Linked DNA regions of Homo sapiens. The gene in region 1 interacts genetically with each later gene. Each region holds a gene or a part of one and is shown in the gene's direction. Other genes may lie near its edges.

Region 1 (6,240 bases):
AACTCCCTTTTTTCTCTTGCCTTTTTTATGCATAAATGGAGGTCAATTTGATTGTCCTGACCTACTGTATAAGTAAATTTCAAATGTCATTACTTTCTCTTTGTTATTATAATGTGTGATTAAATGCTTTTTTAAATTGCTAAGGGAAAATAACAAAGTGTTAGTAATCATTGCTTTCTGTAGAAGAAAAAGGTTTAAATTTAAAATGTGTATTTAGAGCATGGAGAGAATCATTTAATGAAGCCTATTTTTCTGTTCCAGCAACTGTTTTTATGAAAGAAAAACTTGAAATGCTACTTAACTTACTATTTCAAAGGGAAGTATATTTCTTTTTAAAGAATCTTTTTAAGATTAAAAATGAATACCTTAAATCTCCCAAAAGAGATAACCAGTATCTGAAGGTTTATACAATATTTACACAGTGGCTACAATATTCACAAAATTCTTATGTTCTCTTATGAAAAATATACACTTTTCATTTTGTCTTCTTCTTTTTTTTTCTTTTTTTAGATGGAGTTTGGCTCTTGTCACCCAGGCTGGAGTGCAATGGCGCAATCTCAGCTCACTGCAACCTCTGCCTCCCGGGTTCAAGCGATTCTCCTGCCCCAGCCTCCCATATAGCTGGGATTATAGGTGCCTGCCACCATGCCCAGCTAATTTTTGTGTTTTTAGTAGAGATGGAGTCTCACCACATAGGCCAGGCAGTCTCGAACTCCTGACCTCAGGTGATCCACCCACCTTGGCCTCTCTAAATACTGGGATTACAGGCGTGAGCCACTGCATCCGACCTCATTTTGTTTTTTTCAATTCTGTTATCGGCATTTCTTTCTTTTTTTTTTTAATGTATAGGTGTTCTGTCATACGTTATTGTGAGCTTTGGTTCTTTGAACAGGTGATCTATTCTCTTACATTTTGTGCTTTTTATCTTGGGTGCCTAGCATTCTGTTTTTTTGATCCTATGTCATAATTTTTTGAGAAAATGTTTGATACTGCAAGATCATTGTTTAGTGGTCTGTTTTCTACTTCAGTATTCTACCAGAGAACATATTTTTTAGGGGAGAAGGGTTATGGTTTTGTAAGAAACTTTAAATATACTTTTAGGAGACCCACAATCATTTACAGTTTTATCTTTGGCCTTTGAATAGGTTCTTTTTTCTTTAATGTCTCCGTATTTGAAGAACTGAGCTCTGTACATTATAAATTTGCTTAAAGATTTTGATTTTTTCTTCAGAATATGGTATACTTAAAATTAATTAATTAAGACAGTTTCTTTTTTCTTTTCTTTTTTTTTTTTTTCGAGACAGGGTCTTGCTCTGTCACCTAGGCTAGAGTGGAGTGGCATGAACACAACGCACTGCAGCCTCTACCTCCTGGGCTCAAGCAGTCCTCCCACCTCAGTCTCCTGAGTAGCTGAGACTACAGCTGTGCGCCACCACATCTGGCTAATTTTATTTTTATTTTTGTAGAGACAGGAGTCTTGCCATGTTGCCCAGGCTGATCTCAAACTCCTAGGCTTAAGTGATCCTCCCGCCTTAGCCTCCCAAGTGCTAGGATTACAGGCATCAGCCACCACGCCTGGCCTGATAGTTTCCACATAGTTTTTCATGACTTAGAAGATATCATTGCCATGTAGGTTTTATTTTTAAAAGTCTTGAGCTCTTCTTAAATATACATTATAAAGAGCAAGCATAGATGGAAAGTGCATATTGAACACATCTGTGCATTTGAGAAGGCAGGCTTTCATATGCTGTCATGAGCAAAAAGTAGAAGTGATAAATGCAAGTTATGTTTTGAGATTGCTTACACCGTGACAAGATGCCATCACTTGTGATGTTATGAACTGTTATAAACTCTTTGCTTCTGCTAAGAAGCAGTCTAAATATAATCAACGTACAGTGAGCTCTTTGAAGCCAACCAAGGCAGGCAGAACCCTCTTAAATATGAGACTGATGTATAGGTTCTCTCTATGGTCAGTATCACTGGATAAGCCTTCTCCTTTCATAAGAAAGGATGTATTTAAATACATTTTATTTTGCTAAATCCTGTTTAGTTTTCAGCCATTAAATGTCACATGAAGCCTTGATAGAATTTGTTCATAATGGCTCATGTATTATTATTATTTTTGAGATGGAGTTTTGCTCTTAATGATATTATTATTATTTGAGACAGAGTTTTGCTCTTATTGCCCAGGCTGGAGTGCAGTGGCGTGATCTTGGCTCACTGCAACCTCTGCCTCCCAGCTTCAAGCGATTCTCCTGTATCAGCCTCCCAAGTAGCTGGGATTATAGGCATGTGCCACCATGCCCAGCAAATTTTGTATTTTTTTTTGGTAGAGACAGGGTTCAACCATGTTGGTCAGGCTGGTCTCGAACTCCTGACCGCAAGTGATCCACACGCCTTGGTCTCCCAAAGTGCTGGGATTACGGTGTTAGCCACTACACCTGGCCTGGATTGTGTATTATTTATGTCTGTAGTTTATATGCTTAGTTGTTGCCTATAGTGATCTGGGTAAGATTCAAACATTTATCTTTTGTATCTTCTACAGAAGTGCTTTGAGCATCAAATTTGTTTTAACGTTAAATTGTAGTTTGCTGTATTAAAATAGATCAATGAATATAATTCAGTCTTTTAGGGGCACCAAGTAAAGCATAAGGTCATATATACTATACAATATGTTTATTGCACTTCCCATGGGGATAAATCACTCTGTCATTCCTAGTTATTTTAAAAAAAGAACTTTATGATTACGGTCCTCTTTCTCACATACTGCAAACTTAAAAGATACATACACCAAATATAGGTCTGTTTTAAAGGAGAGGAAAAATAGTTCAAGGAGTTTTTGCCTCTTTGTTTTTCAATAGATTATTCTGCCATTTTTTAAAGGAAAGGGAAAATGAAAACAGCATGTCTTTTTAAACATTGAAAAGAAATATGGAGGCTTTAAACCGCAAACTGAAAAAGCTGAGTAGAACAAAGGCAGTGGAGCATACAATACAATTCTATTTATTTGAGGTTAATTGAAGTTAATAATTTTTAAATTTTTTTCTAATTTTATGCCTTAAAATAGGTTTCTGATTACATAAAATTTGAATAGAACACTCAAGAAGTATGTAGATTTTTGAAAAACCCAAACAATATTCTTCTTAGATTTTTGGAGGCAAAATTTAGACCAGTATACTAATTCAAAAGACAAATATTTCAGAGGAAGTGGAGTACAGTATTTAACATTTTGTTTGCAATTTTACTTTTTCTTCCCTTCTTCCCTATTGAACCTTGATTAAAATGTATGAATACAATACTTGGATTTTTTTTTTTCAGCTTAGACTCTGATAATTTCAGTGGTAGTGGGGAAACCTGAATTTGTCAGCATGATTATTTGTAACTCAGATTGTTCAAATGTATATAGAAGGTCCCCTTCAAGTGTTGTTTCTCCAAGTAGTCATAAATGTAGCAAGTATAAATCAGAATATCATCTTATAATCTTACAGAGTTAACCTAATGAGTCAATACCTTTATAAGCAAAACCATGATAAATTTAAAAACAACAGAAATGTGGCATGATTACTTATTTATTTGTTCCAGGTGACTCTAAATAGTTGATTTTTCTGCCTGAAGGATCCTGAACATATTTAGTTACCCTGTAGTTATTTAGGAATTTAAACCAGAAGACTTTGAAGTTGTATATTCTTGCAATGCATAAAATGACATTATAATCAACAAACTTATGGTTTGTTTCAATTGATGCACACAAAAAATAACTTATAGTTAGACTTTTCTATTTCAAGTAAAGCTTTGAGTTACTTGTTTTTATACATATTCATCATGTACCCTTTATTGTTTCTAGGTGTTGATATACTTTAATAAAAATGATATGTTTAATATTTTCCCATTAATATATTTCTTTGAAGCTATTTGTTTTAAAAGATGTAACACTTATTTGCTGTCAAATTCTGAATTAAAAAATCTGTTGGTGGCCAGGCGCAGTGGCTCATGCCTGTAATCCCAACATTTTGGGAGGCCAAGGAGATGGATCACTTGAGGCCAGGAGTTCAAGACCAGCCTGGCCAACATGGCAAAACCCCATCACTAAAAATACAAAAATTACCCGGGCATGGTGGTGGGTGCCTGTAATCCCAGCTTCTTAGGAGGCTGAGGTAGGAGAATTGCTTGACCCTGGGAGGTGGAGGTGGCAGTGAGCCGAGATAGCACCACTGCACTTCTAGTTGACAGAGTGAGACTCTGACTCAAAAAAAAAAAAAAAATGTTGGGAAGACACACAATTTTATATTTTAAAATGTAAGTTAGTTTAGATCTATGAAGATTTGTTGTTCCCGTCTCTTCAAGAAATGAAAAGCCGGCTGGGTGCGGTGGCCTGTAATCTCAGCATTTTGGGAGGCCGAGGCAAGAGGATCACGAGGTCAGGACTTCAAGAGCAGCCTGGCCAATACGGTGAAACCCTGTCTCTACTAAAAATACAAAAAAAATTAGCTGGGCGTGGTGGCACACGCCTGTAGTCCCAGCTGCTTGGGAGGCTGAGGCAGGAGAATCGCTTGAACCTGGGAGGCAGAGGTTGCAGTGAACTGAGATTGCGCCACTGCACTCCAGCCTGGGTGACAGAGCGAGACTCTGTCTCAAAACACAAAAGAGAAAAGCTAAAGTAAGAGCATATAATTGGCATCACTGTGGACAGATTGTCAATGAAAATTCAATAGAATACCTTATTTAAGGTAAGAGAAGATGCTGAGTTACTGTCAGATTAAATTACCCTACATTCTAACTATGACTGCATTGAGATTATTTGTACATAGTGTGGCACCCACCTCCCACGCTCATGCAAACAGGCTGTTATATCTTTGTAATAGTTATTTTAAAATGTACAATAAATTATTGTTGACTGTAGTCACCCTGTTGTGCTATCAAATACTAGATCTTATTCTATCTAGCTATATTTTAATACCCATTAGCCATCACACTTCTTCCCCTCATGCCCCCACTGTTCTTTCCAGCTTCTGGTAACCATCATTCTACTGTCTATCTCCATGTGTTGAACTGTTTTAATTTTTGGCTCCCACAAAGGAGTGAGAACATTTGAAGTTTGTCTATCTGTGCCAGTCTTATTTGACTTAACATAATGTCCTCCAGTTCTATCCATGTTTTTCCAAAGGACGGGATCTTATTCTTTTTTATGGTTGAATAGTACTCCATTATATATATGTACTACATGTTATTTATCCATTCATCTGTTGATGGACACTTAGGTTGCTTCTAAATCTTGGCTATTGTGAATAGTGCCGCAATAAACATGGGAGTGCAGATATCTCTTTGATATATGAATTTCCTTTCTTTTGGGTATTTATCAATGTTCATCAGGGATGTAGGCCAATAGTTTTCTTTTTTAATGTGTCCTTTTGATTATTATTATACTTTTAGTTCTGGGATACATGTGCAGAACTTGGGGGTTTGTTACATAGGTACACATGTGCCATGGTGGTTTGCTGCACCCTTCAACCTGTCATCTAGGTTTTAAGCCCCGCATGCGTTAGGTATTTCTCCTAATGCTATCCCTCCCCTTACCCCCCACCCCTCGACAGGCTCCAGTGTGTGATAATCCCCTCCCTGTGTCCATGTGTTCAGCTCCTACTTATGAGTGAGAACATTTGGTGTTTGGTTTTCTGTCTCTGTGTTAGTTTGCTGAGAATGATGGTTTCTAGCTTCATCCATGTCCCTGCAAAGGACATGAACTCATTCTTTTTTATGGCTGCTAGTATTCCATGGTATATATATGCCACATTTTCTTTATCCAGTCTATCATTGATGGGCATTTGGGTTGGTTCCAAGTCTGCTATTGTAAATAGTGCTGCAATAAACATACATGTGTATGTGTCTTTATAGTAGAATGATTTATAATCCTTTGGGTATATACCCAGTAATGTGACTGCTGGGTCAAATGGTATTTCTGGTTCTAGATCCTTGAGGAATCGCCCCACTGTCTTCCACAATGGTGGAACTAATTTATACTCCCACCAACAGTGTAAATGTGTTCCTATTTCTCCACATCCTCTGCAGCATCTGTTGTTTCCTGACTTTTTAATGATTGCCATTCTAACTGGTGTGAGATGGTATCTCATCGTGGTTTTGATTTGCATTTCTCTAAAGACCAGTGATGACAAGCTTTTTTTTCATGTTTGTTGGCCGCATAAATGTCTTCTTTTGAGAGGTGTCTGTTCATATCCCTTCACC
Region 2 (8,478 bases), on another chromosome or scaffold:
ATACTGCCTGGCTCATGAATCATGAATAAAAGCCAATTTGATTTTTAAAACTCAATTTGCTGAAATTATGTTCTTTGGCAAGCTGTACAATAATTACATTAGGGCTACATTAAATTCAGGGTGGTTAAGAGTCTATAAAGCTTTACAGTACTTCCAATAATCATCAAAAGTGTTGTTCTGCTCCAGAAATATAAAATAACTTTTATAATTTGAATCAGCAACATATATCAAGTACATAATTTTGAAGTCACACTTTCAATGTGGAGGCTTCATGAGGATTAGGTAAAAATCATGATATAATAGAATTAGTGGATACAGTAAGGTGAAGATTTTGACGCAAGGGGCTCAAAGAGATTTGACATATGAGTGGTTTTATGTTTGCTATTGAAAAATTGACGGGCCTTTCAGGAAGTTCTGGAATGTACATTATGCAAGTTTTGTCTTCCTGGGCAAGAGTCTCCTGATTAATAGTAAATTGTAATAGTAAAGTTTTATAGTCAATAATAAAGTTGTGTTGATGAGGCCAGTGGAATAGAAAGTCATGTTAATATGTTAATATGGAGAGTAAACTGTGGACAATTTCCGTTCTCCTGGGTTTGAATCTTAGCTCTGTCACTTAATAGCTTTGGGATCTTGAGCAAGTCAGTCATCCTCTCTGTGAATCAGTTTCCTCATCTGTAAAATGGGCATACCAATACTACCTTCTCATGGAAATGAATTAATGTATACAACTGGCTTAGTACCTGACACATTTCCCCTCAGATCCTACCACACCTTCAACCTCATAGAATTTACCTTAGGAGAAATAAAGGCCTTAAGTGGTTGTTTTGGTTTTACATATGGACATATATTTGGCTGACATTTTCCATTTGTATTGTTTAAATTTATACAGTAAAGTCTGGCTACATAATTAACTCATTGACAATTGCATGTCTTTTAGATACTCTCAGCCCCTGCATGAAGAAATAGCATTGCATAAACACCTGAAGCACAAAAATATTGTCCAGTATCTGGGCTCTTTCAGTGAGAATGGTTTCATTAAAATCTTCATGGAGCAGGTCCCTGGAGGTAAGAGATATTTCTTTCTTTAAAAAGTGTGAATGTTTAGAGCTTCGGAGGGGAGTAAAATTGAATGGGATTTACTAGCGTACAGGTCTTAATCTGTCTAAACTGAAAGAAAAATTGGACATGTGACATTACCTCCAGTTTGTTAGGAGATGTCAACCATAAATGATGAGATTTAGAAAATATCCTAATGTATAGAGTTTATTCCAGTGCAAAGCTTGAGGATAGCCACCCAGGAAACACAGACTCCAAAAGAATGGGCCAGTGTTCCAAAGTGAGGAAGTTCATGTTTCACTTATATAAGCTGAAGACTAACAGGGTGGCAACATCTTCTACCCAAAGTCATTACATTTAAGTGGTTACAGCTTGCTGTATTCCAAGGCACATTATTTTAATGTTCCATAAGGAGGGGTAATGGTCTCGGGGGATCTTTTCTTTGGCACCATTCAGTCTTCTCCAATCATTTACAGGACAAAAATGCGGAAGAGATTTAGCCTATAATCGCAGAATCAGAAGTTACAACTGAATGCTATATGACTCAGGCCACAAAGTCACATTCCTTAAATAATAAGGCTCAAATAATTTAAAGTTCTAGAAGCTTTACATGTGAATTATGTAATTTCACAGAGACAATACATAAATATGGGAACCATTTCAGTATCTATCATCATGACTTGAATTAAAGTTGGCAATTGACATTGGCCTTTTACTTAGACATATTTGATTACAAGCATCTTTAGAGTAGGGATATTTGCAAATTCATGTTTGAGCCCGATATCCAGTATAGCTCCTGGGCCACTGTGAAGAACCAATGACTGTTAGCTTAAATTACTGTTACATTATTAATACACTTTAAAGAGCTCATTTGAATGAGGATTTATTTACTATTTATCCCTACTTTACAGGAAGTCTTTCTGCTCTCCTTCGTTCCAAATGGGGTCCATTAAAAGACAATGAGCAAACAATTGGCTTTTATACAAAGCAAATACTGGAAGGATTAAAATATCTCCATGACAATCAGATAGTTCACCGGGACATAAAGGTGAGGTACACCAGCATTCATTTTCATGAGTTCTTTCTTTGCTGGGTTATTATTTTACTTGCAAAAGTCATATTGTGTTATGAGTATTAATTTAGAATGGTGAATAAGTAAATCTTAGAAACAGCAGAAATATAAAATATCGTTCAACCCTGAATCAGTTATTTATGTTCATGTCTTAACGCTTCTGCTCAAGGAACACACTGCTTAACTGCGTTCAGCCAACAAGATTGTGCTCCCACCACACAATGTTTCCTAGGAGCTCTGTGGTGTGGGATGCAGCTGTCAAAAGTTAAACAGGAGATGGCCCCTGGTCCTGAGGAGCTTATAGGCTGGTTAATCTTTGTATCCTTGCCCATAGTAGCTACTCAGTAAATACTTATTGAATCAATGGATGAATGGTTAGAAGAAAAAAAATTCCTCTTTTCTCACAAGTATCACATATTCATTGATTTAACTATAATTATAAGGTATAGATTCTCTAAAATAAGCTAAAATAATAACTTTACATTCTCTTTTTAAAAAGAAAATTCAGAACTAATACATTTTTTACAAAGTCTGGACTGTTGAAAATAAGTTAATATTAGTACCCTAAAATCAACCAAAAAGCCCATTTATCTATCATGTCCCTACATATTCCAGGAAAAGAAGTAAAGAAACATAGAAAAGAAAGTAAGGTAACTGGAAAGTTATGAAAATCGTAATTTAATTATACATACATCATTATATATCTGTAAATAGCAACAAGCTCTAACCAATTAGGAATCATATTTGATCTTGTGATCTGAGTAGCAGATTATGAAGAACTTATAACCATCCAATGAGTTCATGTTGCCCACTGACCAGATAGAGCTGATTTCTCAAGATGTAAGAATTGCAATTGAGAAAGAGTTTAATACACATAGAGATGGCCAAACAAAATATTGGATCTTATAATTATTCAAATCAGCTTCTCCAAAAATTTAGAGGCTAGGGTTTTTCAAAGATAGTTTGGTGAGCAGGGGGCTAGGGTCTGGGTGGTTGGGGATGTAATTATAGGGGTGTGGAAAATGGTTCTTGTGTGTTGAGTCCACTTCTGGGTAGGGGCCACAGGACTGGTTGAGTCCAGAGTCACAGGTCTGGGTGATGCCATCTGATAGTCAGAAATGGAGAAGCCTGTAAAGACATCTCAAAAGGCCAGTCTTCAGTTCTACAATAGTGATGTCAATTATAGGAACAATTGGGGAAGTTGCAAATCTTGTGACCCCCAGAATAATGGGCTGATAATCATTTGACTGTGCCTACATCTTAGCGGACTTTAGGCCCCTCTCATCCTCCTAACCTGGTGGCCTTTCATTAGTTTTACAAAGATAGTTTAGTTTTGGGGAAGGGCTATTATCAACTAAACTATAAATTAAATTTCTCCAAGTGAGCTTGGTCTACACCCTGGAATGACCAAGGGCAGTTTGGAAATTTAAAGCAAGATGGTGGTGGTTAGATCAGATCTCTTTTACTGTCATAATTTTCTCACTGTTGTAATTTTCGCAAAGGCGGTTGGTTTCAAACTGATAATATGTAAACAAAAAATAGTGTCAAGAATGCACTATTGAGATAAACTATTAATGAAGAATACAGAATTAATGTCGTTGGTAGCTGTAAGGACACCTTTTTTTTTTTTAAATTGGACTTACCAAGTCAACAACAGACAGTATCTGAAGAAAGATAACAATTGTGATTAAAGTCCTCTGTTCTCTAGGGTGACAATGTGTTGATTAATACCTACAGTGGTGTTCTCAAGATCTCTGACTTCGGAACATCAAAGAGGCTTGCTGGCATAAACCCCTGTACTGAAACTTTTACTGGTATGTTTTTGCAATGATGATACAGATCTTATGTAATTAAAGAAATAATTGCTGAGTTTGAGCACAATGTGAGAGAGAAATTCAGTTGGTGTTCTCACACACAGTAATGTTGGTATCTTTTTTCTTTCTTTTCTTTTCTTTTCTTTCTTTTTTTTTTTTTTTTTTTTTTTTTTTGAGACAGGGTCTTGCCCTGTCACCTAGGCTGGAATGCAGTGGTGTGATCACCTATCACTGCAGCCTCAAACTCCCAGGCTCAAGCAATCCTCCCACCTCAGCCTCCTGAGTAGCTGGGACTACAGGCATGCGCCACCACGCCCAGCTAATTTTTTTGTATTTTTGATGGAGACAAGGTTTCACCATGTTGCCCAGGCTGGTCTCAAACTCCTGGGCTCAAGCGATATACCTGTGGCCTCCAAAAGTGTTGGGATTACAGGCGTGAGCCACTGCGCCTGGCCAATGTTGGTATCTTTTGATGCTCACTGAAAAATGTGTTACAGAATTTGATTTGGCCCTTTTCTCTTCCTGTATTTATATGACTTGCTTAGTTAGTCTCCTGCTTAATGCCACTGAAGATTTTTTTTTTTTTTTAATTCTCAACTTGTTACTTATTTTTCTTTTCATGTAATTACTTCTTTCCTGGTTGGCCTACAATAACTCTAGCAAGATTTTTTTTTTTTTTTTTTTATTAAACATTTCCTTGGCCCAACCTCTCTGTGATGCTTACTCATACCCTAATCACTTCCCATTTGGACGATGAATTCCCTCTTTTACTGTTTACTCTCTGTGGTTGACTCCCCTACTCCACAATATAAATAACCCTAGGATTTCAATTCAGAAGAGGAAGTGACTCACCGACTCAGAAGAAGGGAGGGAGAGAGCTTTCCTGAGAAAGTAGGCAACGCAACCACTGAGCTGCCTCTGGTGCAAAGTACTGGGAGGGTGGAGACCAAGTGATTTCCAAAAAGGTAACAGTAGCCAAGAGGAAGCTCAGACTCAAGAGATTCATGACTGCCCAACAGTTATAGGGAGGGTGTGTGAGACTTCAAACCTGATCTCCATTTAGTTCTTATCACTCCATCATGCTAATTCTCATGAAGTGTTAAGTTCTTCTTATAGAGAGAAATTTAGCAGGAAAAAAAAAAGGGTAAGGGGAAGGGAAGAGAAAAAGATCATGAATAATCTTTGGTCTAATATGAAGCAACATGGCCCCATCTCAATTCTGTGAGGTAGGTGGGAGTACCTCCATTTTGTAGATGAGGAAATTACCTGGGAGAGAAGTGACATTGCAGTCAGAAGTCACAGCAGTGTGTACCGGATAGAACTCAGACTGGTTTTTTGTTTTTGTTTTTGTTTTGAGACTGGGTCTTGCTATGTTGCCCAGGCTGGTCTTGAACTCCTGGGTTTAAGCAGTCCACCCACCCCACTCTCCTAAGTATCTAGGATGTCATGCCTGGCAAAACTGTTTTTTTGTTTTTGTTTTTTCTTTTGAGATGGGTTCTCGCTCTGTAACCCAGGCTGAAGTACAGTGGTGTAATCTCTGCTCACTGTGACCTCCCCTACCCCGGGCTCAAGTGATTCTCCTACCTCAGCCTCCCTAGTAGCTGGGACCATAGGCACGCACCTCCATGCCTGGCTAATTTTTTGTATTTTTGGTAGAGACAGGGTTTCACCATGTTGCCCAGGCTGGTCTCAAACTCCTGACCTCAAGTGATCCACCTGCCTTGGACTCCCAAAGTGCTGGGATTACATGTGCGAACCCCCACGCCTAGCCAGAACTCAGATTTTGTATCTACTGTTTGCTCTTTGCTTTTACCTTCTGGCTCTAGTCCATCTTTCTCTCTACCTTCCTGCAGGAGGAGAGAGAGACATTCTGTGTAAGTTTTTTCCCTAGAGCATTCAGTCAGCAATACCCCTGGCCCAGCTCCCACCTCAGGGCAATGGATATTTTAGGGTACAGAATTAAACACATTTTGAATATATTTTTTTGAAAAAACTAAATTCTGACCTATTAATAACTTCAAATGTCTTTACATTTCTTTCCTCTTACTCTTAACTTGGCAAGCAGCAGTTTCAGTGCTGTCAAGACTCAGTAATTTCTGAGAGGAAAATCCCTCGTTTCACACACTTTGTGGGACAGGATGTTAACACAGTATCTTCTGCTACTAATCTGGGGAACATCTTTTTTGTAAAATCTCCAAAGGAATTGTAGGAAAGCAGTCCTCACAGAGCCCTTTTCTTGGACCTCTTCCACTGGTGTCACGTAAGAGTGACGTGTGTCACTAACATGTATAGATCTGTCCCCAGCACCGGTCCCGAGGGCCCTGCACATCATAGGCTTCAAACGTGAACTTGGTGGTCACTAAGTCCCAGGTGGGTTAGTCCCAGGTGCTCAGTCAATAAATTGGTCTGCATCACCTTTTGGTGATTTTGATGAGGGAAAAGGCAGCAGTGATCACCATTTATGGAGTGCTTACTGTGTTACCTTGCTCTGCACTAAGTGCTTTACATATGTTGTTTTATTGAAATTCATACATCAGCCTTAATCATTAGGTATCATTATCCCAGTTTGTGGTGAGAAAATGAAGGTTCAAAGAGGTTGAATAACTTGCCCAAGGTCACAAAGCTAGTTGGTAATAGAGCTGAGACTCAAGCAAGACTTAACAGGCCAAAGGGAATTAATTATCTTCTCCCAAACCTGTCCCCGGCACACTCTTCTGTCCCAGTTGGCAGCCACTCCCGACATTGTTATCCAGGGCACTTCTCTTTTCTCACACTCCAACCCAGTCCGTCCACGAAGCCTTCAAAACATGTCCAACATTGGGCCGGTTCTCACCACCTCTGCTGCTGCCACTCTCATCGCTCACCTGCATTTTCGGTGGCTTCCCCAACTGTGCTCCTGCTTCACTTTTGCCCCCTACTGTCTACTCTCAGCACTGCAGCCAGAGTGATCCCTCTGAAACATAAACCAAGTCCTATTGCTCAGAGCCCTCAGTGGCTTGCTTTTTTTTTTTGTTCAGAGTAAACAAATGTCAGAACCCTCATAGTGGGGGACAAGGCTCTGACCTGATTCGGAGTCTGTTCCCTTTCAGACCCCATTTCCTACTCTTCTTCTGTTATTTACTCAGAGCCAGAAACGTGGACCTTCCTGCATTTCCTCCATGACAGCAGGCAGGGTCCCATCACAGGGCCTTTGCACAGGCTTTTCCTCCTGCCGCTACCCCAGCTGTCTGCATGGGTAACTTTCTTACCTTCTTCCAGTCTCAACGCAGATGTCCACCTCTGCAGTGAGACCAGCCATGAACACCCTATTTACCATGGCAGCCTTCCTGCTGATCCTCTTCACTCGGGTCTATATTTTTTTGGTCATAACATGTCACTTTCTAACATGCTGTATAATTTACTTACTGTGCTGATAATTTATCATCTGGCTTCTACTGCAAAAACATAAGCCCAGGTATTTCTATATGTTTTCTCCTCTGCTGTATTCTAAGTGCCTAGAACAGTGCCTGGCCCATAGTAGGTCCTCAGTGTGGATCTGTTAAATGAATGAGTGAATGAATGAAATGTGACATTAGAGTTTAATTAACCACTAAGCTGTACCACCTCCCTGGGTAGTTGCAGCAGCAAAGAAATTCTACAATAGATATTTCAAAGCAATTTTTTAAAAAAACTTTAGAATGCAGATATGTGAGGTATGAGTTTTAGAGCAAATACTCTCATTGATTTTACTTAAGCCAGTGTTCAGGTTGGCTCTCATCTTCATTATCCAGCTTCGTAAATTGCTTTGTTTAAAATATTATGTGTCATGTATTTGTGGAGTAAAAAGAGGAGCAGATAAGAACACATGACTCAACCTGTTTTTCTGGCACTTGCTCAGTGGGGGATAATTAAACACAATTGGCAGATGGTTATCTGACAAATCAAATATTGCATAATTTGTTGTTGACATTACTTGAATTGTCTAATTTACGATGTTTAAAAATTAAAAATTTCCAAATTTTGATCCACTATAACTCCCACTTAGCTATTAGTACAACTTAAATTCTCTCATTAATTCTATTCTAGGCCCCGAGACAACAAAAGGGGGTGGTAGGCTTCGATGCATTTTCGAAAAGACCATTTGAGCTTATTTAAATCATACAAAATTATCACTTGGGGAAAAGCTACAAATGAAGAGAAATCATACCAATTTTGTAGTAAAGGTGGGCGAGCGTCTTTGGGGAGCATGGTTGCCTTGTCTTTGGCCAGGTGAAAGGCTTTCTGAGAGCAGACATGTGCAGTTGTATGTTAGCGTGAACTACTGCTATGCAGTGATAAGGTCTGCAGGATAAACCTAGAAAGACTGCAATACATAACAAAAATGATACACTTTTATTTTTGTAAACAATAGTCCATTTCTCACCTATGATAGTGCTTTTCAGAGGAACAGTTTGCAGGAATTTTACACAATTGTTTTCACCTAAAACCATGCATGAGGCATTCCTAAAAGGTGTCATCTGTATTTATCAAAATGTCTGTCACTTTGGTTATGAA

The links. Genes that interact genetically often act in the same process or in processes that back each other up.
Region 2: of DUSP19 (region 1) and MAP3K5, changing one enhances a phenotype caused by changing the other (phenotypic enhancement), as found in Homo sapiens cells (one study listed by BioGRID).

Annotation. Positions count from the first base shown.
Region 1 is NC_000002.12:183,095,747-183,101,986, forward strand, and holds the end of DUSP19 (dual specificity protein phosphatase 19), read left to right. Parts: 3' UTR 1-4,262; downstream 4,263-6,240.
Region 2 is NC_000006.12:136,606,749-136,615,226, reverse strand, and holds part of MAP3K5 (mitogen-activated protein kinase kinase kinase 5), read left to right. Parts: intron 1-940; coding exon 941-1,068; intron 1,069-1,970; coding exon 1,971-2,107; intron 2,108-3,839; coding exon 3,840-3,945; intron 3,946-8,478. UniProt on the Homo sapiens protein: Serine/threonine kinase which acts as an essential component of the MAP kinase signal transduction pathway. Plays an important role in the cascades of cellular responses evoked by changes in the environment.